Homo sapiens: one gene and its partners. The protein of the gene in region 4 purifies or fractionates together with the protein of the main gene of each other region. This does not show direct contact. Each region holds a gene or a part of one and is shown on either strand. Other genes may lie near its edges. The genes, in order: MAN2A2, TOR3A, DNAJC3, GALNT7, KLK15 and NXPH1.

Region 1 (3,500 bases), on a different chromosome or scaffold from region 4:
CATAAGTGCAGACAGTGCTGACTCTCCCAGGAGTTTACTCGTGAGTAGGGGTGGCAGAGAAGCCATGTGTGTAAAAATGCAAGGTAGAAAGGGCTTTGTCTCACTGATCCTGAGGAGCAAGGTAATAATGTGGGCTAAGGAGATCGAGGTCAAGGAGGTGTCACCCAGGTGTGGCTTTGATGAATGGGGTGTGATTTGAAGATATGAACCAGGGCACAGGATAGGAGGCAGGAAAGACAACAGGCTGGGGAATAGCAGTGAGTTCCTTAGTTATGCTGGAGCTATGCTATCCAGTACGGTGGCCAGTAGCCCTATATGGCTATTTAAATTACAACTAAATCAAGTAAAAAATTTGCTTTCTTATTCCTACTGACCACACTTCAAGTACTCAAGTGGCTAAGTGGCTGCCGTATTAGACCATGTGGTGTCGGATATTTCCATCCTTGCAGAATGCCCTCTTGGCTGGTGCTGGGCTAGAGTGCTAGGGGGAGATCAGGGCAGACGGCAGAGCACCTTGAGTGCCTGCTAAGGGATCTGGACTTTATCCTGGCTAGGAAAGGTCCAGGCTAAGGAAAGAGCTGAGCAAGGAGGGACACCGTCAGAACTCTGGTCTCAGCATGTCACGCTGACAGTACGGAGCAGGTTGGATCTGTGGGAAGGGAGACTGGAGGAGGGTGACAGCGGGAGGCTGTTCAGGCAGGACATGCTGGCTGCTTGAACTAGGCCAGAGGCTGGAGAAGTTGCCGGTGGCTATGAGGACACTGCCCAGGTGCGACGGAAGAGGGTTTAGCATTACCTGGGAATGCAGAGGGAAGTGAGAGATGCTGGGCGCTTGGAAGAAGGGGGATGCCAGGGACAGAAGTCCAGAATATTCAGCCCAGGCCTGTGAGTCTGACGTCCAGGTGAGCTGCTAAGGAGTAGCCCTGCTGGCAGAGCCCCGGCCGCGCTGGGCCTGAGAGCCAGGCTGGCACTGTGGATGTGGCATCGCTCGTGAAGCCGCAGATTACCCAGAGCACTCTGGATTGGAGGTCCGTGCTCCATGGTGAGGCCTGCGTCTGCCTGGCTGCCATCCTCCCTGCACTGTGGATCCATGTGTGAGGGGAGACATGGCTGATGGGAGTGGGTTGCTCATGATAGTGTTATGTGAGCAAGGAACTAAAAAGTAGAGAAGAAACAGCTTAGTGAAGTAGCCCTCTGCGTTAGGGGAGACGGCAAATGTCCACACTTGAAGGGTTAGCGGAACCTCGCCTGGAGCCAGGCGTGCCCTTGAGTCCAGGCACACCAGGAAAGGTCTTTCCAAAACAACTGACCTGGGTGTGCTTTTATCCTGCCTCGTCCTCTCCCCTCAGCCTGGCTTTGGTCCCTCACCAATATCTCGGGTCAATTTTGCAGGTCCAAGATAGCCACTCTACCAGCTACCCATCCCTCCTCAGCCACCTGACCTCCATGTACCTGAACGCCCCGGCGCTCGCTCTGCCTGTAGCCAGGATGCAGCTCCCAGGCCCTGGTCTGCGCTCATTTCATCCTCTGGCTTCCTCACTGCCCTGTGACTTCCACCTGCTCAACCTACGTACGCTCCAGGCTGAGGTGAGTGTCCCTCAGCGTGACATGCTGAGAGCAGAGTTCTGATGGTGTCCCTCCCTGCTCAGCTCCTTCCTTAGCCTCCAGGATGAGGTCCAGACCCCTTAGCAGGTATTCGGCTCCAAACCTCCAGGACCAGGTTTTGGCCTTTCCTTACCCACACGCCTCCCTGTGCCAGCACTGCCTCTGGGCAGAGGCGCTGCTGCATCTCCGATCTCTGAAAGCCCTGCGCCCACTTCCCTGGGCACTGTCTGTCATCCAGGAGGACACCCTACCCTCGGCGGAGACCGCACTCATCTTACACCGCAAGGGTTTTGACTGCGGCCTGGAGGCCAAGAACTTGGGCTTCAACTGCACCACAAGCCAAGGCAAGGTGAGTAGGGTGGGGAAACAGAGCACCTAGGAATGGCAGGCATGAGCTTGGTAAGACTGGGCTGAGATTCGGTGACAGGCTGGGAGAAGAAAGTGTCACTCCAGGGCTTTCTGGAGAGAAGGGGGGAAGCTGTAGACATGTTTTCAGAGCTCCGGAGGCCTGGCAGGGGGAGTTCCAGACAAGGTAGATCGCTTGAGAACTTTTGTTCCCTGAGCAGGGACCTCTATCAAGCAAAGTGGAAAACACCAGAAATAGAAAACCAGAACCCATCCTGTTGTTACTTTGTAAGCTCATATCAGCCGGCACTGATAAATGTCCCCGGGTGCCAGGTCCTCTGCTGGGCTCCAGTGTTTCAGAAGTGAACCAAGACATGGTCACTGTTTTCACAGAGCTCACAGCTCAGTGGAACGGTTCTTACCCAGAGATCTGTAGGCAGGCTTTAGGGTTGAGCAAATCTCAGCAAGCCCGTGAGACTGGATGCACACTCATGTGTAAGAAGGCATGGTGTTGCTGAGAGGGGCCAGCCGGAACTGGAGTGCAGTGGCGTGATCGCAGCTCACTGCAACCCCCGCCTCCTGGTTCAAGTGATCCTCCTGCCTCAGCCTCCCGAGTAGCTGGGATTACAGGCGCCTGCCCCCACGCCCAGCTAATTTTTATATTGTTAGTAGAGACGGGGTTTCGCCATGTTGGCCAGGCTGGTCTCGAACTCCTGACCTCAGGTGATCCACCCGCCTTGGCCTCCCAAAGTGCTGGGATTACAGGTGTGAGCCACTGCCCCTGGCTGAGATTCTTAAAGAGGTACCAAATTGTAGATGAACAGCCACATTCTTTAGTGTCTCGGCACCTAGCACAACCCTGCCCCTTCTCTGCTCTCCACAGGTAGCCCTGGGCAGCCTTTTCCATGGCCTGGATGTGGTATTCCTTCAGCCAACCTCCTTGACGTTACTGTACCCTCTGGCCTCCCCGTCCAACAGCACTGACGTCTATTTGGAGCCCATGGAGATTGCTACCTTTCGCCTCCGCTTGGGTTAGGGCTTCTTGTGGCCTGAAGAGAAAGTTCATTCACAGAGACTGCCTCTTAACATGAAGATCATTGGACAAGCCACACGGGTATCCCATCCCGATCTGCCTCCCAGAACTGTGACACACTGGGCTCTGCCCTCATTTTCTGTTTATTGCTGCTGCTGTGTTTTCGGCGCAACCCACAAACCCAGTGATGGGTAAATAGGGCAGACGCCAGTGAGATCAGGGAGAGAAGGCCCTTGGTCAGAGTGGGCAGTGCCAGGCTCTGCTTTGGGTTGTGAGTGGACACCCAACTGGGCACAGGCTCAGGCACCCATCCTTTTTCCAAACAGGGATATAGAAGTGGTGGAAGCAGACAGAAGAGGTAAGGGAGGCTAAGTGGGTAACAGCCCAGCATCAGGGTCACTGTGGCAACAGCAGGCTCTAGGGGAATCCTGTGGTTATGTAGAGACTCCATGTCCTGGTGTGATGAGCAGGATCAGAGTGACTCTGGGAGGACAGGGGTGGGGACCCAGAGTTAGCA
Region 2 (3,500 bases), on a different chromosome or scaffold from region 4:
TTCCTTCAGCCTTGGAAGTCTGTTTCTTCTCCGATTATGAGAAGTCATCACTGGCTTAAAATCCAGGGTATACGGGTTGAGAAACCCATGCTTCCTCTGAGTACCTGTAGTTCAGTTGTGACGCTACCATGCGGGACCCAGTCACTGAATCACTGCACTGAGGTTCCTGTGCTTTCACTGACATCTTTGCGTGAAGCCAACTTAGAAATAACTTGTCCAACCTCATCTTTTTGCGGAGGCTCCAACTGGGGGAGTCCTGTGTCTGTTACAAGTCAAGTTTGGGCCCTTGTTGACCCAATTTGAAGGCTTCACAACAGCTCGAGCCTCGGTAGGAGTCAAACTGAGTGCTCCCTTCCCAACTCCACTCCGGCCTCGCCTTCCCCAGGCCAGCACTTGCTTGCTGGGGGGGTTTCCCAAGCTGCAGGGCTCACTTTGTGAGGATGGGGAAGTTGGTGAGGGGATGCTGATTTTCATCCTAGCTTGGGGAGTGTGGAGGGGTGAAGGGTTGAGCTGTGGAGGGCAGATCTAGTTTCGGTGTGGATTCACAAGAGGAAGTGAAACAGGGTCCAGGCGCAGTGGCCTGTCTACTAAAAATACAAAAATTAGCTGGGTGTGGTGGCAGGTGCCTGTAATCCCAGCTACTCGGGAGGCTGAGGCAGGAGAATCACTTGAACCTGGGAGGCAGAGGTTGCAGTGAGCTGAGATCACACCATTGCACTCCCGCCTGGGCAACAAGAGAGAGACTCCATCTCAAAAAAAAAAAAAAAAGTGAAACAGGTTTAAGCCGTTGCTGGGTTGGGATTTCTGTGTAGTGGCGGGAAGCCCTTCCTGGTCTGCAGGTGAAGCTGTGGAGACTTAAAATGCATTGCGAAGTGGGAGGGGAGTGGGGCGCCCAGGGTGATTTTTAAGAGGAGAGAGAGATCTCTTGCATGATTTGGGTGCCCAGAACCAGGAGGTGAGGACAATACATTCTTCCAGTTAGTTCTTATTCCCACGTTCTGTACTATTTCCCACCTTCGGAGGCAGCCGGGCTCACCTCTCCTCCTGTTACAGAGAGTCAGGTGGGGGCTGCAACATGCAGATGAGCCTGAACAGAGGAGTCACCTGGGTGCTCTGTGGTTTCTCCACCTGAGCCCTGGGTCGGGCAGTCCAGGGGACCCTCTGAACCACCGATGCGGAAGCCAGTCCTTCCCACGGCACGGAGCAAAGCATGGTGACCCAGCCTCGGGCCTCCCTTTCGCTTCCACAGGGATCTCCCTTGCGCTGAGTGTCTTCCTCCTCCCTCTCCCCGAGACAGGGGTCTCCCGGCTTCAGGTGGTGCCGGCCACACAGACTCTCCCACCCACTTCTCAGCTTGGAAAACCTCACCTGGGCCGTGATTGCCTAACGTGACCCGGTGACCCTGCAGTCTCCAGGCAAATGTTATAGCCTTTGTAGTATTTTGGCCGTCGACCTGACAGCACCACCCTCCAGCTGCCTGTCCTTTCCCCCAGTGACCCAGCCTGGGTGGACTGTCCGAGGCCATGTGGTTGTGGGCGGGGTGGGGGGGGGGGCCTGCGGGAAAGCCGCCTGCCAGACTCCTCCATGCCACAGCAGGGTGGGGAGGTCCCCCAGGAGCCTTTGACAAGGATGTAAAGGACACATTAAAAAGATGTGGCCTTAGGTTCTAGTGGCTCTGGTGTGGGCCTGTGCCCAGCCTTTACGAGCCAGAGGTTCCCCCCTCCAGCCGAGGGCTGGGCTGACATAGTCTGTGCCCAGGCTGTCCAGGGCAGCAGCCTCTCAACCTCAAGTTCTCAGGTAGTCCAGCGATGGCTGGGAGGAGACACACTGTTGATATTGGAGTCTCTGGACTTGATTTCTATAATGAGCTTCAGTTAATCATCCACTGTAATAAGGATTCTAGGGCATGAAAGAAAAGCACAGCTGATTCAAACTGCTAGAGTGACCAAGTCATACTGCACGAAGGAAGAGCAGCAGTTTAATTCTGAAATAAATCCTAAACCTGCTGTTTGAAGTGAGTTGCCAGTGGCTTTGCTGGCTTCCTCCTGGTGGCAGGAGAGAGGAGGTGGGAGCTGAAGCAGGGAGTTGAGTGTGGTGCTCAGAGCCTGTCCTTCATCCGGGCCAGGGAATTGGGGCCGGTGACTGGGCACCAGGAAAGTAACATTACTTCGCCCACTTCTGCCAAGTATAGAAGGCTGCAGGAATGGGCTCACGTGGCAGGACAGGAACGTGGAACTCTGCGATCGGAGCTGCTGCCCTGTTCTCATGGGAGCTGTAAAGTGACAAGGGTAATTAAAGCCTGTTTCCTTTGTGCTGTTGTCAGGAAAAGGATAGAAAGGACTTTGAAAAATTACAGAACTACACAAATAGAAATTATTTGTGGAGTCGTGGTGGGCCTTGCGCTCCAGCCCCCAGTGTCTGTTGGCTGCCTGTTGACTAATGAGAGGACAGCTTAGATTGGTCCAGTCCTGACTTTATAAATGAGAACACTAAGGCTCAAAGAGATGACTGAGTCTATGTCTGTTCTTTAGGAAAGATGTAGCAGTTAGCATGGGGTTTGTTACCAGTAACAACCAGTTCTCTGGTGAGGCCTGAAGTCCCCTTCCTTTGGGGTCTTAGGGATAAGGGCTGGTGAGATCAGCCCTGGCAGGGGCTGGAGACGGGGGATGAGGGCTGGTTGAGAGAGGTGCCCTCTGGCCCCTCCAGACTTCCCAGCGATCCAGGTCAGCAGATGAGCTGGGAGGCTGTGGAAGGGAATTGAGGTGCTCCAGAAAGACAGTGTCTGTCTAAAGGTAGAACGCTGGTGCCAGAGTGGTGGTCCTGAAGATGGGAGGGGCGGCGCGTAGAGAGGGGCCCCAGGTTATGGGTCAGTGGGTGAGATTAAAGCCTCTAAAGTGGTGGAAGAAAAGGGACTTTGGCTATGGGACAAAACAGGAGAGATTGAGAAGGGTGGAGATGGTGCAGACACATGTGCAGAGATGTCCCTTTATTTACTAAAGGCTGAGTGCCTGATACGCACATAGCACTGGGGTTACAGAAATAAACAGGCCAAGCTTCCTGCCCTATGTGATGGGACCTCTCTTTACCCATGTAAGCACCTTACAGAATGGAGAAGGCCCTGGAGTCCATGCCCCTAGGATGGGGTGAGGGAGTATCACTCTGTGGGGTTTCACAGCACCCTGGATCCTGCCTTCCAGCCCCTGCCAAGGTAAACAGTGCTGCCTGCCTCCTGTGGGGAATGCAGGATGGGGCAATGCCCTGGCAGCAGGGTCTTGCCTCAGCTGATGCAACTGTGGCTGCTCCTGTGTGCACAGATCATGTGCCTGGAAGGCCTTCCTGCAGCAGGGGCAGTGTCAGAAAGTGGAAGAGTGGTGTGAGCAGCTTCCCCGGGGAAAGCCTGGCTGAGCAACTGACCTTGAGCAAGCACTGCAGATGGCCCTTGTTCCTGCCGGGCTCCTCCAGCTGGGAGCTCTCAGCCCCTGGTAAATTCTGGCAGTGAA
Region 3 (3,500 bases), on a different chromosome or scaffold from region 4:
TAAGGAAGTTATTTCATTTCTTTGCTAATGGTTTGTCCTCTTGGTGACTTGAGTAGCAACACAGCCTGGGAACGAAACCTTTTTTCTCTTATCATAGTTTTATCTCTTTTTCTTCCTTAACATGCTATCTGGACCCAATTTTTCTTTATTTCATTGAGCTGATTAAACCATATATTTTGGCCATGGGGAAAAGAATAGTTGAAAATATATAGTTGAAAATCTATACGTATAAAATATTGTGATAAGTTTTATTTGAACCATGATAAGTTTTATTTGAACCTAACCTATTAAAGGTATGTTTTGTCTTTTCTAGGATTTTCTTGACATTATCTAAATAGGGAAAGAATAAAGTAGCAAAAATGAGTGACTTTAAGTAATTTAAATAAATTAAGTATCATAAAAGGTGGTCACATATTTTCTAGAATTATTTTAAATTCTTTAATAAGATAGGCTGTAGTTAGCAGTAGTATCAAAGTTCCAGTTCTCTTGACATAGTTAGTATTTGCTGAGAAACTGCCTGGAAATGCAGTGGTTTTCATTCTGTGAGGTAGGGGAAGTTGTTCTGGGAGGGGATGCACTGTAGTAATTAGGTTTTATTTTCCCATATGAAGTTAATTAATTGTTGTTAAGTTTAATTTCTACTGCTGTGGTCTCTTTTGATTAGTGTCCTGCAGTTAATCTTTGTTTATATGGAAGTATCATGGGAACCCATTCACCTGCTCTTCAGAACGCAAACATTTCAACCATAGATTTATTTTTCTTTCCATATCTTTAGAAAGCTACTTAAAAAAATTAAATCTGATGAGTTTGTATCATTTGGAGTTCTGGAATATGGAGAAGACTCATTTAATCAGTCAGCAAAGGCTTTTACTAACTATATTGCTCTTTGGTGAGGTATATATACGTAGCATAGAACTCATGGCTTTTGCTTTTGAGTTTACAGACCACTTAGGGTTTAAGACATGCATTTGTGAAGCATTCACGTCCTCTTTTTCTCCTTTCCCGCTTTAGACTGAGTGGTCCATTATTGTAGTTAGTGTACTGCAAATGCCCATTTATTTTCTGGCCCCTGTAATCTTCTGTTTTACTCACCTGCCAAAACCCAACACTGGTTAAATTCAACTTGGCCAACTGTTTTTATACCTTATAGGTAAACACGGACGGAGGAAAATGGAGACAACTTTGCTGATTAGTCTCATTTATCTTTATTTTTATTTTCAATTTTTTTTCGAGACAAGGTCTTGCCCTGTCACCCAGGCTGGAGTGCAGTGGCATGATCCTAGCTCAATGTAGGCTTGACCTCCTGGGCTCAAGCAGTCCTCCCATCTCAGCCTCCTGAATAGCTGGGACCACAGGTATGCACCACTGCATCCCCTACTAAGTTTTTAAAATTTTTTGTAGGGACAGGGTCTTCTATGTTGCCCAGGCTGGTCTTGAACTCCTGGGCTCAAGCAATCCTCATCCCTTGGCCTCCCAAAGTGTTGAGATTACAGGCACGAGCCAATGCACCTGGCCCTGATTAGTCTCATTTTAAAGAAACAATCTCAGTCGCAAATGCACATTAAATACTGCTAACACTCCCACAATTCTTTACTATGTCTATTCTTGAAAATCAATATTTCAAACATTTTCCTCCTTTCTGAAGCCTCTAATTTAAACTCTCCTTTCCTCTCTCCCCTACCTCATTCTTTTAGACCTTGTCTTTACTGAGAAAATGAAAGCCATCACAAGGCAAGTTCTTCTTTCTACCTCAAAATTCACTAGCTTATCTACATTTGTACCTATTCTGCTACTTTTTCTCATATTGAAATACATTAAATGTCTCTATTCCCAGATAAATCTAATCTGTGTACTTACACCCTGGATTCCATTTCCTCTCACCTTCTGAAAATGTTGCTCCTACAGTTGTATCTTTGTGCTGCTATAACAAAATACCACAGACTGAGTAATTTATAAAAAAAATTTCAACCTGAATTTTGGAGAGAACATTCAGATAATAGTAGATGCTGAACTTCCTGTACTATCTTTCTTTGGCTAGATTCCACTGTCTTCTGTGTTTCTGCTACAAGACTTCTTTTAGACTCTACCCCACCTTGCTAGAGTCTTGGCTTAGCCTTCTGTTCTTTTTTAGAGAAGAAACTTAGGGCTTTCCTCATTCCTCATATTCTAAGTGCTCCAACCTGAATAACCATCTCTCTCTCTGGGATTGCTCTCTGGTCTGGGTCTGCCACCGCCTTTGCTTGAACTTTAGTATCTTTGACTATGAGTTCTTGCCTCCTTTAGTCTGGTTCTTCCAGTCTTGATTGTAACTCACGTCATACCTTTAACCCCCCACCTTTAAGTTTAAAAAAATCCTTATTTTCTGCTCTCCAAAATATAAGATATTCTAATACTAATTTCAGTGAAAGACATAGTTGGCTACTCTACCTTTTTCCCTGCCCTTGCTGCTTATTTTGCTGACTTATGATCACTGCTTGTCTAAGGAGAAACCTATTGTCTAATGCTGATTAGGAAATGGCATGATGTTTGGTTGTCTTACCTCTCTGAAAATAATGTTTACAGACCATGTGGCAAAGGAATAAAAATTACCTGTGGCTCAAAAGAGAGTGGATTGCAAAAACAGCCAATAATTCGCAAATAATTTGATTTTTCAGATGTGTCTTTATGAATCATTGATCATATGTTTGACTTGATAATTGTTATGTATTTTAGATTTTATTCTGATGAATTATAATACGTTTAAGTAAAAAGGCAAATAGTTAAATTCATTCAACAAATATTGCATACCCACTATGTGCGGGATACTGAATTAGGTGATACAAAGAAGAAAAGACAGCTCCTCCTCTCAAACTTGCTTTTGATAAGTTTTGTGGAGTTGGGACTTTGAGAAGCAGGCAAATTGTGAAAAGCAATATATAGAGAGAGTGATATTGCAAAGTGAAGTCATGTACTTCTGAGTGTGGAAATGCAAAATATAGGAAGATTGAAGGAGCTTTTTTTCCCTCTCTCAAAACAATACAGTGTGAGGGAAGGTTTCACAAAGGAGCCAGCATTTGAGGGCAGAATCTTTTTTTTTGTTTAACTTTATTTTATTTTAGATTCAAGATATACATGTGCAGGTTACATGGGTATATTGTGTAATGGTGGGGTGGTATGATTTAGATCTGTGCCCCACCCAAATCTCATGTTCAGCTGTAATCCCCAGTGTTGGATCTGGGGCCTGGTGGGAAGTGATTGGATCATGGGGGTGGTTTCTAATGGTTTAGCACCATCCCCCAGAGCTGTTATTGTGATAGAATTCTCACAAGATCTGGTTGTTTAAAAGTGTGCAGTATCTCCCCCCTCTCTGTCTTCCTCCGGCTCTGGCCATGTGAAGATGTGCCTACTTCTCCTTTACCTTTTGCCATGATTGTAAATTTCCTGAGGCCTCCCCAGCCATGCTTCATGTACAACCTACAGAACCGTCAGCCAATTAAACCTCTTTTCTTTATAAATTACCC
Region 4 (3,500 bases):
GGGTGGCATTTAATTGGCTCAAAATGCCCCCTTAGAAACCCGATAAAATCTTCCCAGTAGGTGGCTAAAACTGCTTCACAGACTTGCCCACTTGTAACTGCAGTTACCATAGTATATTAGAAGTCTTGAGATAAAAATAAAAGATATAACTATTAGCTATTCCATAATAGGCATCACTCCATTGTCAAGAGTCCCAGTGTTTCAATCTGTAAAGTAACTTTGGGACGAACTGGTTTACTGTGTAGTACTCAGCCTGGTTACCCTGCTTAAGTTTAATATACAGTATTAGAGTTGCTGACCTTGATTTCTTTTAGTGGAGCATTATGATGTCAACTCTACTATTTTCTCTATTTTGTTACCCTTTGGTTTATATCTTGGCCTGATACTTAAAGAAAGGGAAAAAAAAGATAAAGAAGAATAGCAATTCCTCTAAGCGGGTCTATTTCTTTGAGCAGATAATTCTTACCAGAATATCATACTTTAAGCCACACCTAGAGCTTATATAGAATTTTTATATTTCCATAGTTACCTGAAAGCATGCTTCATCCATTTTCAGTTCTGCCCTAGTTGCTAACAGAGGCATTGCCATTGGAAAGTGGCCTTCAATCTCTTTCTAGTTTAGGGATATTAAAATATACTTGGAAATGGGTCCTTTCCTGTATGGATGACATTCTAGATATTTAAGGACTGGTAAGGTCTCTGTTTAATCTTGGGCTTATCCATTTTAAGCCCTGATTAAGCACAAATTCCTTGACCATGCCCAGCAGGGCTGCAGCTCCCAATGCAGTCATCGCTCAGTGCTCTGAAAGGAGCAAGACATGGAGCTCTTCAGTCAGCCGGAAATGTCTAGTCCATCCAGCTGTAACTAAGCAGAGAGAAAGAAGGGTACTGAGGCTGGTGCACTCCACATTCCCACCCACATCCTGCCACATGTTGGTGAGAGTCTGGGGAGCCCCAGCCTACTGGCACGCCTTGTTCCCTCTGAATTTCTGGAGCTTATTTATTTTTACCACCTCCCTCTCTGCTTTCTGTGTCCATTCCTTCTGCTCCTTTTAGGTAACTGCAGCCAGAGAAAGGATGCTGATAGGATTTTTCTGAAGAAAGGTGTTTTTGATCAAGAGAGTTAAAATCACAGAATGAAGTTTGGCTTGTTATACCTTTAAATTCTGTGGCTCATGAAGCATGATAACCAAGTAGTGTGCATGTTGTTCAAGCAGTGGCCCTTTCCTAAAGCTAAGTCATCATTTCTCAAGAGATCATGTGACTGCATAAGCTCATCATTAAAAGCTTAGTTTTCTAGGCTTCACCTGTGATTTCAAATTCAAACAAGCCTATGTTACTGTCATTTGCTCTAAAGACCATTTTTCTAAATCCCTTTGGATTTATATTATCTCTACCAAGGCATGGCCATCTTGGAAAAATATTACATATAAGCAGGATTTGGGGGTAAGAAGGGGCACTTTGTAAGTTGTAAGGTGGATGGTTACTAGCCTGACCTTACTTCTGGTAATCCATATTACCATCCAGTGATAAGTGGTTATATTTTTCAGTCCATTTCCACCTTTATGAACATACTGATCTTGGAAAATTATCTACTCATCCTCTTTTCCATTTCTGTTTAACAGTGATTCATTAGTTTGGGCTGTAGAGTGGATCAGCTGGTGTTTACGAAGGTATCATTGTACCAGTGAGTCACAGAGGCATCTACTGATTCTCATTCACTCTCAGAAAGGAGGAGTATGTAGCTTTCCTCCTCAGGGGAGTAAAGTATTACACCACTTTATAGCCGTTGTTTGAATCATATAATTAAGATTTGATGTGATTATTCTTAGTTGACTTGGGGTTAGACAGACAATTCTTGTATTTGGTTTTGCCTTCCGATTTAATGACATGCAGCCTCTGAGAAGTGAGCAAATTCAATTTTTCTGGTGCTATTATATGGCATTATTAAAAGTACAGTGCCGTGTAGGGAATATAGAGTTATGTTCTTGGTGAATTCATAAGGTATTGCCAGTACGGGTCTATCTGATTTAAGCCCTGCTCTCCCATTTTGTATTTTCCATTCTTTATCTCCCCTTTTCTTTTCGGAGTCTATCTTACCACCAAAGCAGAAATTTTAGGATTCATTCATTTATTCAGTGAGTATTTATTGAGGAATTATGTGCCAGGATAAGCACTGGGCATGCAGTGGTGCGTACGATGGACATAGCCTCTGCACTTTCACAGAACTTACAGTCTAGTGCAGGGACTAGGGAACCAAATCCAGCCCAACACCTGTCTCTGTAAATACATGGTTACTGGAACACAGCCATACCCATTCATTTACATATTGTCTATGGCTGCTCCCACACTGCAGAGGCAGACTTGAATAATTACCACAGGGACCCTGTGGTCTGCAAAGCCAAACATGTTTACTACTTAACCCTTTGAAGAAAAAGTTTGCTGACCCCTCTCTCATGGATAGTGCTGAAGACATTTCATAAATGCAGTCTAGAACTGGAAAAGCCTTGCCAACCCCCTTGAGGAGTGTGTATTCTCCAGAGGGCAGTGGGCTACTGCTGGAATATGGTAAGCAGGGAAAGAAACATGTTGATGTATGAATTTTAGAAAAGTCCCTGTGGCTGCTGTGTAGGAAGTATGTGTCAGGGCGAGAAGCACTAGGTCATAGTAGTTAAGAGTGTAGATCCTGAGCCAGACTATTTGGATTGAAATTTTGACTCTACTACATACTGATTCTAATCTTAGGTAACTTCCCTGTCAGATGTCCCATCTATAAAATAGACATGGCAATCATAGTACCTAACTCATGGGATTGAATAAGTTAATGTATGTGAAGCACTTAGGACACAGTGTTTACCATCATCACTATTATTCCTATTGTAATCTTGTTCAGAGGTGAGGGTGCCTGAATTAAGGCAGTAGCAGTGAGGATGATAGAAAGAAGTGGCCAGATGGAGGCTCTACACAGGTGATAGAATTGACAGGAATTTATGATTAATTGGATGTCAGAAGGGTAGATAAAAGAGAATAAAAAGTTGAGGGTGATTGCAGGTTTTGGATTTCATCAGTTGAGTGAATGGTGGTTTCAGTCCCTGAAGTAAGGAGACAGTCAGTGAAACAGGCTTGTGATGTGAGGTGAATGATAGGTTCAGTTTTTGGTATGTTAAATTTAGGTACTAGAGAGATATGAATAGAAATGTTCAGGAAGAAGTTGCCTGTAAGGTTTTGAGTTCAGAAAGGTGATACGGGCTGGGGAAATGGATGTAGCAGTGATCACTATAAAACTGGTCACTGAGCTTGGAAGAGAATGAAATAACCTAGAATGAGGATGGAATGACAAATAGACTAATAACAGAACCCTGAAGAACACTAACAGTTTAAGATTAGACAAAGAACCATTAAGTCAAAAAAAAAAAAAAAAAACAACTTTTGGAGGAAAATAAACATGAATTTTTAATCCATTAAAATTTCTGTCATTGAAATAGTTGAATTTGAAAAAT
Region 5 (4,116 bases), on a different chromosome or scaffold from region 4:
GATTCTAGCAATCTCAGAATCGTGAAAGCCAGGTCCCTGTCTCTCAATTCAGCCTTTTAAAAATTTATTTACTTATTTATTTATTTATTTAGATTTTTCATAGAGATGAGGTATTGCTGTGTTGCCCAGGCTGGTCTCAAACCCTTCAGTTCCAGCAATCCTCCTACCTCAGCCTCCCAAAGGCATGAGTCACTGGGCCCAGCCACAGTCCAGGTTTTCAATGCAAAAACAGATTTGAAACTCCAGACTGTATGTTCCAAAGTCTACTCCTGAAAGCTCAGAGGCTAGATCCACCCTGTAGAATCCAGACCCCAAGCCTGGCATGGTGTCTCACGCCTGTAATCCCAGCACTTTAGGAGGCTGAGTCAGGTGGATCACTTGAGATGAGGAGTTCGACACCAGCCTGGCCAACATGGTGAAACCCTGTCTCTACTAAAAATATAAAAATTAGCTGGGCGTGGTGGTGGTCGCCTGTAATCCCAGCTACTCAGGAGGCTGAGGCAGGAGAATCTATTGAGCCCAGGAAGTGGAGGTTGCAGTGATCTGAGATCACGCTATTGCACTCCAGCCTGGGTGACAAGAGCGAAACTTCATCTCAGAAAAAAAAAAAAAAAGAATCCAGACCCCACAATTCAAAATCCCAAATCTACCATTTGTAGTCTAGGCCCCAGGCTTCTCATAGCAGGTGCAAAGGTTTCCAGCCTCGATTGCCAGATTCCAAACACCAGATTCCAGGCTCCTATTGTGGGTTCTAGATTCGAATGCCCCGGGATCCAGAATCAAGGTTCACGATCTGTCACTCAAAGGCCCGACTCCAGGATCCAGATTCCAGACCCCCAGCCCAAGAACTCAGACTTTGAAATCCATATTCCAGACTGCAGGTCATTAATCTCCAACTCAAGATCCTCAAATCCAGAATCCAAGACCCAGATCCAGAACCAGATCCGGATCCAGAACCCGGGATCCAGAACTCTGCCCCAAGCCCAAGAACAGGGACTTTAGGATCCAGTTTCCACACTCCAGACCCCAAATTCCAGACTCTGTCTTTTGATCTCCTCCTAATTTCTGTTTTTGTCCTCCTGTCCCCTCCCCCTTGAGGAACTGCTCCTGGTGGAGAATTCCTCTTTGTGGACTCAGACAACAGCTTCAACCTAATAAATGCTCATTAGGCCAAGTCTCCCACCCCACCAGCAACCAAGGCGTCTCTGCCTGTAAACCTGACTCTCAGCCACCTCCCACCCCACCCTACACCACCACACCCCCAGACCCAGCTGGGACTGGGAGCTTATAAATTCAGGCATCCTGGTACCTGCTCCCTTCTGGCACCCAAGCTGCCCTAGATGCTGCTGGAGGATCTGGAGGAGGTGAGAGCTTTGAGACAAGACTGAGGGAGGGGCAAAGGGGAGATTCACTGTGCCCTGGTTTCAAGGGGAAACGTTGACCACGCTTGGAGAACTGAGTGTCAAGGGCATGGGTAGATCCACGTGTCCTTTACCAATGCCCCAAATTGAACCTGAACCAAGAAAATGTCCTGGAATGGCCAGAAGGAGCTGCAGTGGTGGGGAGGGAGGGGGATGGAGTGGATCAGGAGGACGTCCCTGAAGTACTTGTATCAGAGCCAAGAACGTGGTCAGGAGTGATCACGGGTTCAAGTCAGTTCAGCACAACCTCCCGGAGGCCTCCTGTGTACCAGGCCCCAGGTGGGGCAGTGCTGAGGTCACAGAAAGAACCTGACCTGAGCCCCATCTTCAAGACCCCCAGATGGAGAAAAGAACAGGCCAGACCTCAGCAAGTATGGGGCATCTGCGCTGTAATGGAGACAGAATGGGTGCTGTGGGATTCAGGGGAGACACCTGTTAGGTGTTGGGGCCTCCCAGAAGAGGTGGGGGCAGAGTGTCAGAGGACAAAGATGAATTTGGAAGATATGGGGAAGAAGGATTTCAATTCACCCTCAAAGCTTCCTGAGGCCTCCCGTGGGTCGGGCCCTGCAGTACTGGAGACCCAGAGTGGAGTCAGACCAGCTCCTCGGGGAGCTGCCAGTCTCGTAGGGGAGGCAGACACCACTGAGGGTCAGGGGAGGTCAGAGAAGGCCTCAAGGAGGAAGCGGGGCTGGAAGGGAATGGCGTTGGATATGCGGTGGGAGGAATAGCCTAAGCATGAAATGGCAGGAGGGAAAATGGCAGCACTGGCTGCGTCTAGGACAAGGTCATGGGAGACCCAGGGAGAGGGGCTGGAAGGGAAGAAGCCACTTTTGTCCTTGAAAGTGAGGCTGGAGCCAGGCAACTCATGCCTGTAATCCCAGCACTTTGGGAGGCTGAGGCGGGTGGATCACTAGAGGTCAGGAGTTCAAGACCAGCCTGGCCAACATGGTGAAACTCCGTCTCTACTAAAATTACAAAAATTAGCTGGGCGTGGTGGCACACACCTGTAATCCCAATTGCTTGGGAGGCTGAGGCAGGAGAATCTCTTGAACCCAGAAGGCAGAGGTTACAGTGAGCGGAGATCACGCCACTCCACTCCAACCTGGGCTACAGAGCCAGACTCCGTCTCAAAAAAAAAAAAAAAAAAGAAAAAAAAAGAAAGAAAGTGAATTTGAAGAGCTGGACTTTATCCTGGTGGTGCCAAGGATCCATGGAGGGTGGTGAGCAGGGGAGGGGCACAGCCAGCTCCAGATGTAGAAAGACCCTTTGGGGTCATGGCTGGAGGGCAAGCTGGTGGAGGGGACTGGACTGGAGGGGGACCCAAAAGGCCAGATAAGAGGGTTGAGATAGACCAGGCGCGGTGGCTCATGCCTGTAATCCCAGCACTTTGGGAGGCCGAGGTGGGTGGATCATGAAGTCAAGAGATTGAGGCCATCCTGGCTAACACGGTGAAACCCTGTCTCTACTTAAAAAAAAAAAATTTCCAAAAAATTAGCCGGGCACGGTGGTGGGCGCCTGTAGTCCCAGCTACTCGGGAGGCTGAGGCGGGAGAATGGTGTGAACCTGGGAGGTGGAGCTTGCAGTGAGCCGACATTGTGCCACTGCACTCCAGCCTGGGTGACAGAGTGAGACTCCGTCTCAAAAAAAAAAAAAAGTTGGGACAGGGGTCCTTGGTGATGATGGAGAGAGATCCAGGGGCTGGTAGCATGGTGCTGGAGGCTGACAGGTGGAGGAGGTGGGGCAGGGTCTGTCCGAGTGCCTAGAGGAAGAGTAAACCTTCCAGAGATGGGGGACCCAGAAGGAAGCGCAGAGTGGGGTTGGGGGAAGGGGATACCGGTGGTCAGAAGAAATTTATTAACAGTGGATGGGATAAGTCTGTGTCTGGAGGGATCCTGGTGGAGGCAGAAGGGTCCTGCCTCACCTGGATTCTCTCACTCCCTCCCCAGACTGCAGCCGAACCCTGGTCCCTCCTCCACAATGTGGCTTCTCCTCACTCTCTCCTTCCTGCTGGCATCCACAGGTGAGGTGGCCCCAGGAGGGGGCCAGGTCTGTGGGAGCAGGTGCCCCCTTCCCAAGCATGTCTGGGCCCAGTGATCTGCCAGCCCCTACCTCACCCAGAGACCACTAAAGATCCTTCCTTCACCCTCCACCTGTGCCAATGTCCCTAAGCCCTTACCGTCAGGTGCTGGTGCTGCTGCTCTGGAGTCGCTATGTTGCCTGGGGCCTCTCGCTGCCCACGACAAGGAACACGGTCCTGGGGTTACACAAACCTGAGCTGAGTCCTGGGGCAACCGCTTCCTTGCTGTGTGTCCTTGAGGGAACTGCTTCACCTCTCTGGGCTTCGAATGCCTTCTCTATAAGACAGCACCCACTTGAGACAATAACAGTGAGGTCTCAATAGCATAACAGAGGTAATATACATAGCAAGCATTAGACAAGTGCTGAGAGGCCAACAGCACAGACAGACTCCAGCTTGAGTCCCACACCTGCCACTCCCTGTCTCTTACAGGGTCTTTGAGGGGATTAAATGTGGTTGTGTGTGAGGCAGAAGCATAAGCCTGGCCCAGGTAGTGCCCCTTCAGGTGTGCAAGCCAGGCACGGTGCTTAGAGCTTACATACAACGTCTATGTGTGGTGGGCACCACCGACCTCATTTGACAAGGGAAGGGGCTGTGGCTCAGAGGGACGGCCACAAC
Region 6 (3,500 bases), on a different chromosome or scaffold from region 4:
CAGGTCTGGCTTCTGGGGTGGGAATGGGGGAATGGGGGTAAGGGACACTTGTGCCCTGCTGGTGAAGTTGTGTTCAGTGTCCCGACCCCCATAGCCCATCCTGGGCTGCGGGAGTGCACCGAGGGCTCGCTATGTTCTGTCTAGGGGTGAGGTGCGCTAAAGCAGCCCGAACTCTCTGATGGGCTACACCTCTGATTGGAGGTGATACTGGCGCTCCTCAATCCCAAGAGCCTTAGATAGAACCCATAAGCCTGAAAGAATTGCCATCCCTACAATTGACAGCGTTTCTCGGCCGTTGCCCTGGTGCATGTGGCTGCAAAGCTGCGAGTTGTGTGAATTCTGTGTATGTGAGTGACACGTATATATATGTGTGTGTGAATGTGTATTTAACCGATTTCAGCTTCAATCCAAGAACCCTCAATGTTGCCTGTCTTTGCCCCTTTATCGCCTGACCGTAGCAGCCGCGGACGCCAGAGGGCGCTGCGCATCAGCGTCCTCGCCCACAGGACACCTTGGGGTAAACAGGTGAAAGCCAGGGCAGCCAATCCAAAAGAACAGCCTTTCTGACTCTGTCACCGAAGTCTGTGCCTTTACCCGCTGGAACGCAGGCGGAATGCAAAAAGTGTCCTTCCCATTTCCCATCTTCAATCATTTTCACCCCCACCTGTGTTCAGTAAGCCCACTGACATTGAGAGACCATGGATGGAGGGCAGAAAGTTTGGCCAGAAGAAATATAGAATTTTTTTATTGAGAGATGGGGGGAGGGAATGCAAAGTGAAAGCGACGGGGGCGGGGGGGAGGTAATTTTAAGGATTCCCTTGACCATCGTAACCCGCTTGCCCTTTTCCTCTGCATACCTTTACGCCTGACCTGAACTTGAGGACTGTTCTTACGTCCTTGGGCTGTGCTCACACACACGGCAAGGGCTTGTGGCTATGGTGCAGTTTATTGCTTGGAGCAAGTATTTCGATAGTCTGGAAAATAATCTATCAAAAGCAGAAGTGAAATCAATACTTTGTGTTAAATTTTAAATGTGTTTGTTGGCAGTTAAACCGTTTTCCACTCATTACAACAACAGTGCTGGATTTATTCTAATGCGCTGCGTTCTCAACAACAAGCGCATTAATTCTCCTTTAATTGTAAACTGGGAGCATTTGAAAACCATTCAGTGTGCAAATTATGCTGATTCAATTACCGTTTAGTTACAGACTTCATTACCTGAATGCCTTTTGGCAATACAGAGAAAGGAGACAATTTTTCCAATTTCACTCAAAACAATACGAAATGTGAACAATAAAATAGAGAAGGCTATTTAGAAGTCCGTTCTTTTTTCTCCAATCTAAAGTACTTTTGTGTGTCGGGGACTAGAAACCACATGCACCACAAAAACTACAGCTGATGGCTGTGACCCAAGGCAGTATTTCCAGGGATTGTAATCCCATGGATATTTGCCAGCAGAATTCCGAGCTGTTTTCCTGAAGGAGCAAAAAGCTGACTTCTACCATGGAAATGAATTTAAAAGGGTGAATTGGGCAGTCATTTCGGGATGGTTTTAGGCAAATAAAGAAGTAGAGAGCCTTGATTAAAACTCTAGGGCAATGAACCGATCAAGAAGTGATCAAGGCTTCTTTCTTCATCTATTTCATTAAATACCAGATACAGTTAACTGGATTGATCATTTGTTTGTAGCTGCACATTGGAAGATCTTATCCCTTTGTAAGAACCTGCACTGGATGCATACAGATTGTCAGGAGCTGCTTTAAGTTACATTCAAAGAAGGCAAGAGTGGCAAAACCATTATTTTAATTTTCTCTTGAACTGACATAAGCCAGGGAAGAATTTGATGGATAATTTTTGTCTTTGTGAGCTCACACCACTAGTTAAGTGCCTGCATCACTCTGTTTATGCCTTACCTCTTAGCTGATATCTCAGTGCACCTTGACCTTTAAGCCCATGGTATCCTAGTTATGTTTCCCAGGGAGTAATCACCACATTAAGTCCATGAAACAAGACTTGTCTAGTTATCTCCTAAAGAAATATTTAGGCTTCTGTTTAAAGTGAATACCTTAAATACCCCCAAATTTGAGAATAACTTCTTATGAAAACTCTGCAGTAGGTCAATGCCCCACACCAAGCCACAGTTTCCTACCTGTATTTGGGTGAATGTTTGCAAAGTATGTTTCTGGGCCCGGGATTCTTTGAATGCTTTAGGTTGAGGATTTTTGTGTTTTTTGAGAGACAAGTCTGTCCTAGTTCAAAATAGAAGCTTATTTTAGTACTTTAATGGGAAACTAATTAGATATGTGCCCACAGAGTTACCTTCTGAAGCATGTTAGCTGGAATACTCAAAATCCACCACAGGACAAGCTCCAGCCATAAATGCATGGGGGTGGGAAACTAACTTTTAAAAATAAAGGTAAATAAAATTTCAGACTATTGAATGTTATGTATTGCAGATTTAAAAGCCTGAATTCAATAGGAGAGAAGTCTATGGTTAACAACGCTTATTAAAAATAATAAAAAAGTTTTGCAATCTTTATTCTCTTATTATTCCTGGACCAATTCCAGGATATTTTCAGTATGATACAATGGGATGGCAGGATGATAGCATTTTAACTTTATTGAAGCATATATTGAATCAGCTAGAAAAATATGGTTCCTTGCTCTGAAGAGTGGGGGTTCTAACTTGAATCAGCCTCATTGGATCAAGTAGAAGGATAGGCCAGGACACCAGGAAAGCATCTCCCACAGGGTGTGGCATTCTGTTTGGGGGCTCACCTGTGGTAACTCTCAGTTAGAGAGGTGAGTCTAATGAGCACTTTCTGAGCATGCTAATGAAAAAGCTACTCAGAAATTGAATCCAATGCATCCGACAAGGCATTGTATAAAGTTACTGTGACTAGTCACCCATCCACAGCTCTATTCTAATGAGAAGGGGTCCCACCATTTCTGCTAGGAATTAAATTGCTAATAATCAAGTTGCTTTTTAAATCAAAATAGGCATGAATTAAAAATCCTTTCTAAACTTGTGCCACATTATGAGCCATCTATTCTCTCAAATTTGGGATATCCTTAAAATGTGAATTCTACACCAATTGTTTAATAGAGTTTGGAGAGTAATTAATGTATCTATGGGACCACTACCTCTGCACTGTTAAAAGCTAGATCATTTGGGTGAAATCCACTCATTATGAAGATGGCTGTTAAGGTATATTGGAGCTGGGGGAAAAGCAGAGGGAGAGAGACCAGCAATGTCTTTTCTTTGGACTAGGTATGTGTGCTTCTCATTCTTTAAAAATTAAGCCAGCTGCACACTGAAAATTCTAATCAATTTGAGCTTATTACTGAAAATAAACAAAATAAAATAAATTTCCTGACAGTGGCTATTAAGTGTTCCCTATTAAGGCTAGTTCTTGGAGGCAGTACTAAAAGTTTCTCATTCCACTGCATTTCCTGACTCTTCTACTACAGACCAGCCTTTTAGATACATACGGGATTCA

The links.
Region 1: the proteins of GALNT7 (region 4) and MAN2A2 purify together in Homo sapiens (affinity purification with mass spectrometry; 2 studies listed by BioGRID and IntAct, with this or other methods). This does not show direct contact.
Region 2: the proteins of GALNT7 (region 4) and TOR3A purify together in Homo sapiens (co-immunoprecipitation; one large-scale study listed by IntAct). This does not show direct contact.
Region 3: the proteins of GALNT7 (region 4) and DNAJC3 purify together in Homo sapiens (co-immunoprecipitation; one large-scale study listed by IntAct). This does not show direct contact.
Region 5: the proteins of GALNT7 (region 4) and KLK15 purify together in Homo sapiens (co-immunoprecipitation; one large-scale study listed by IntAct). This does not show direct contact.
Region 6: the proteins of GALNT7 (region 4) and NXPH1 purify together in Homo sapiens (co-immunoprecipitation; one large-scale study listed by IntAct). This does not show direct contact.

Annotation. Positions count from the first base shown.
Region 1 is NC_000015.10:90,916,802-90,920,301, forward strand, and holds part of MAN2A2 (alpha-mannosidase 2x), read left to right. Parts: intron 1-1,392; coding exon 1,393-1,587; intron 1,588-1,843; coding exon 1,844-1,954; intron 1,955-2,833; coding exon 2,834-2,986; 3' UTR 2,987-3,500.
Region 2 is NC_000001.11:179,088,570-179,092,069, forward strand, and holds part of TOR3A (torsin-3A precursor), read left to right. Parts: intron 1-3,500.
Region 3 is NC_000013.11:95,680,139-95,683,638, forward strand, and holds part of DNAJC3 (dnaJ homolog subfamily C member 3 precursor), read left to right. Parts: intron 1-3,500. UniProt on the Homo sapiens protein: Involved in the unfolded protein response (UPR) during endoplasmic reticulum (ER) stress.
Region 4 is NC_000004.12:173,241,811-173,245,310, forward strand, and holds part of GALNT7 (N-acetylgalactosaminyltransferase 7), read left to right. Parts: intron 1-3,500. UniProt on the Homo sapiens protein: Glycopeptide transferase involved in O-linked oligosaccharide biosynthesis, which catalyzes the transfer of an N-acetyl-D-galactosamine residue to an already glycosylated peptide.
Region 5 is NC_000019.10:50,830,775-50,834,890, reverse strand, and holds the start of KLK15 (kallikrein-15 isoform 4 preproprotein), read left to right. Parts: upstream 1-1,316; 5' UTR 1,317-1,364; intron 1,365-3,367; 5' UTR 3,368-3,398; coding exon 3,399-3,441; intron 3,442-3,597; exon of another isoform or gene 3,598-3,792; intron 3,793-4,116. UniProt on the Homo sapiens protein: Protease whose physiological substrate is not yet known.
Region 6 is NC_000007.14:8,436,609-8,440,108, forward strand, and holds part of NXPH1 (neurexophilin-1 precursor), read left to right. Parts: intron 1-3,500. UniProt on the Homo sapiens protein: May be signaling molecules that resemble neuropeptides and that act by binding to alpha-neurexins and possibly other receptors.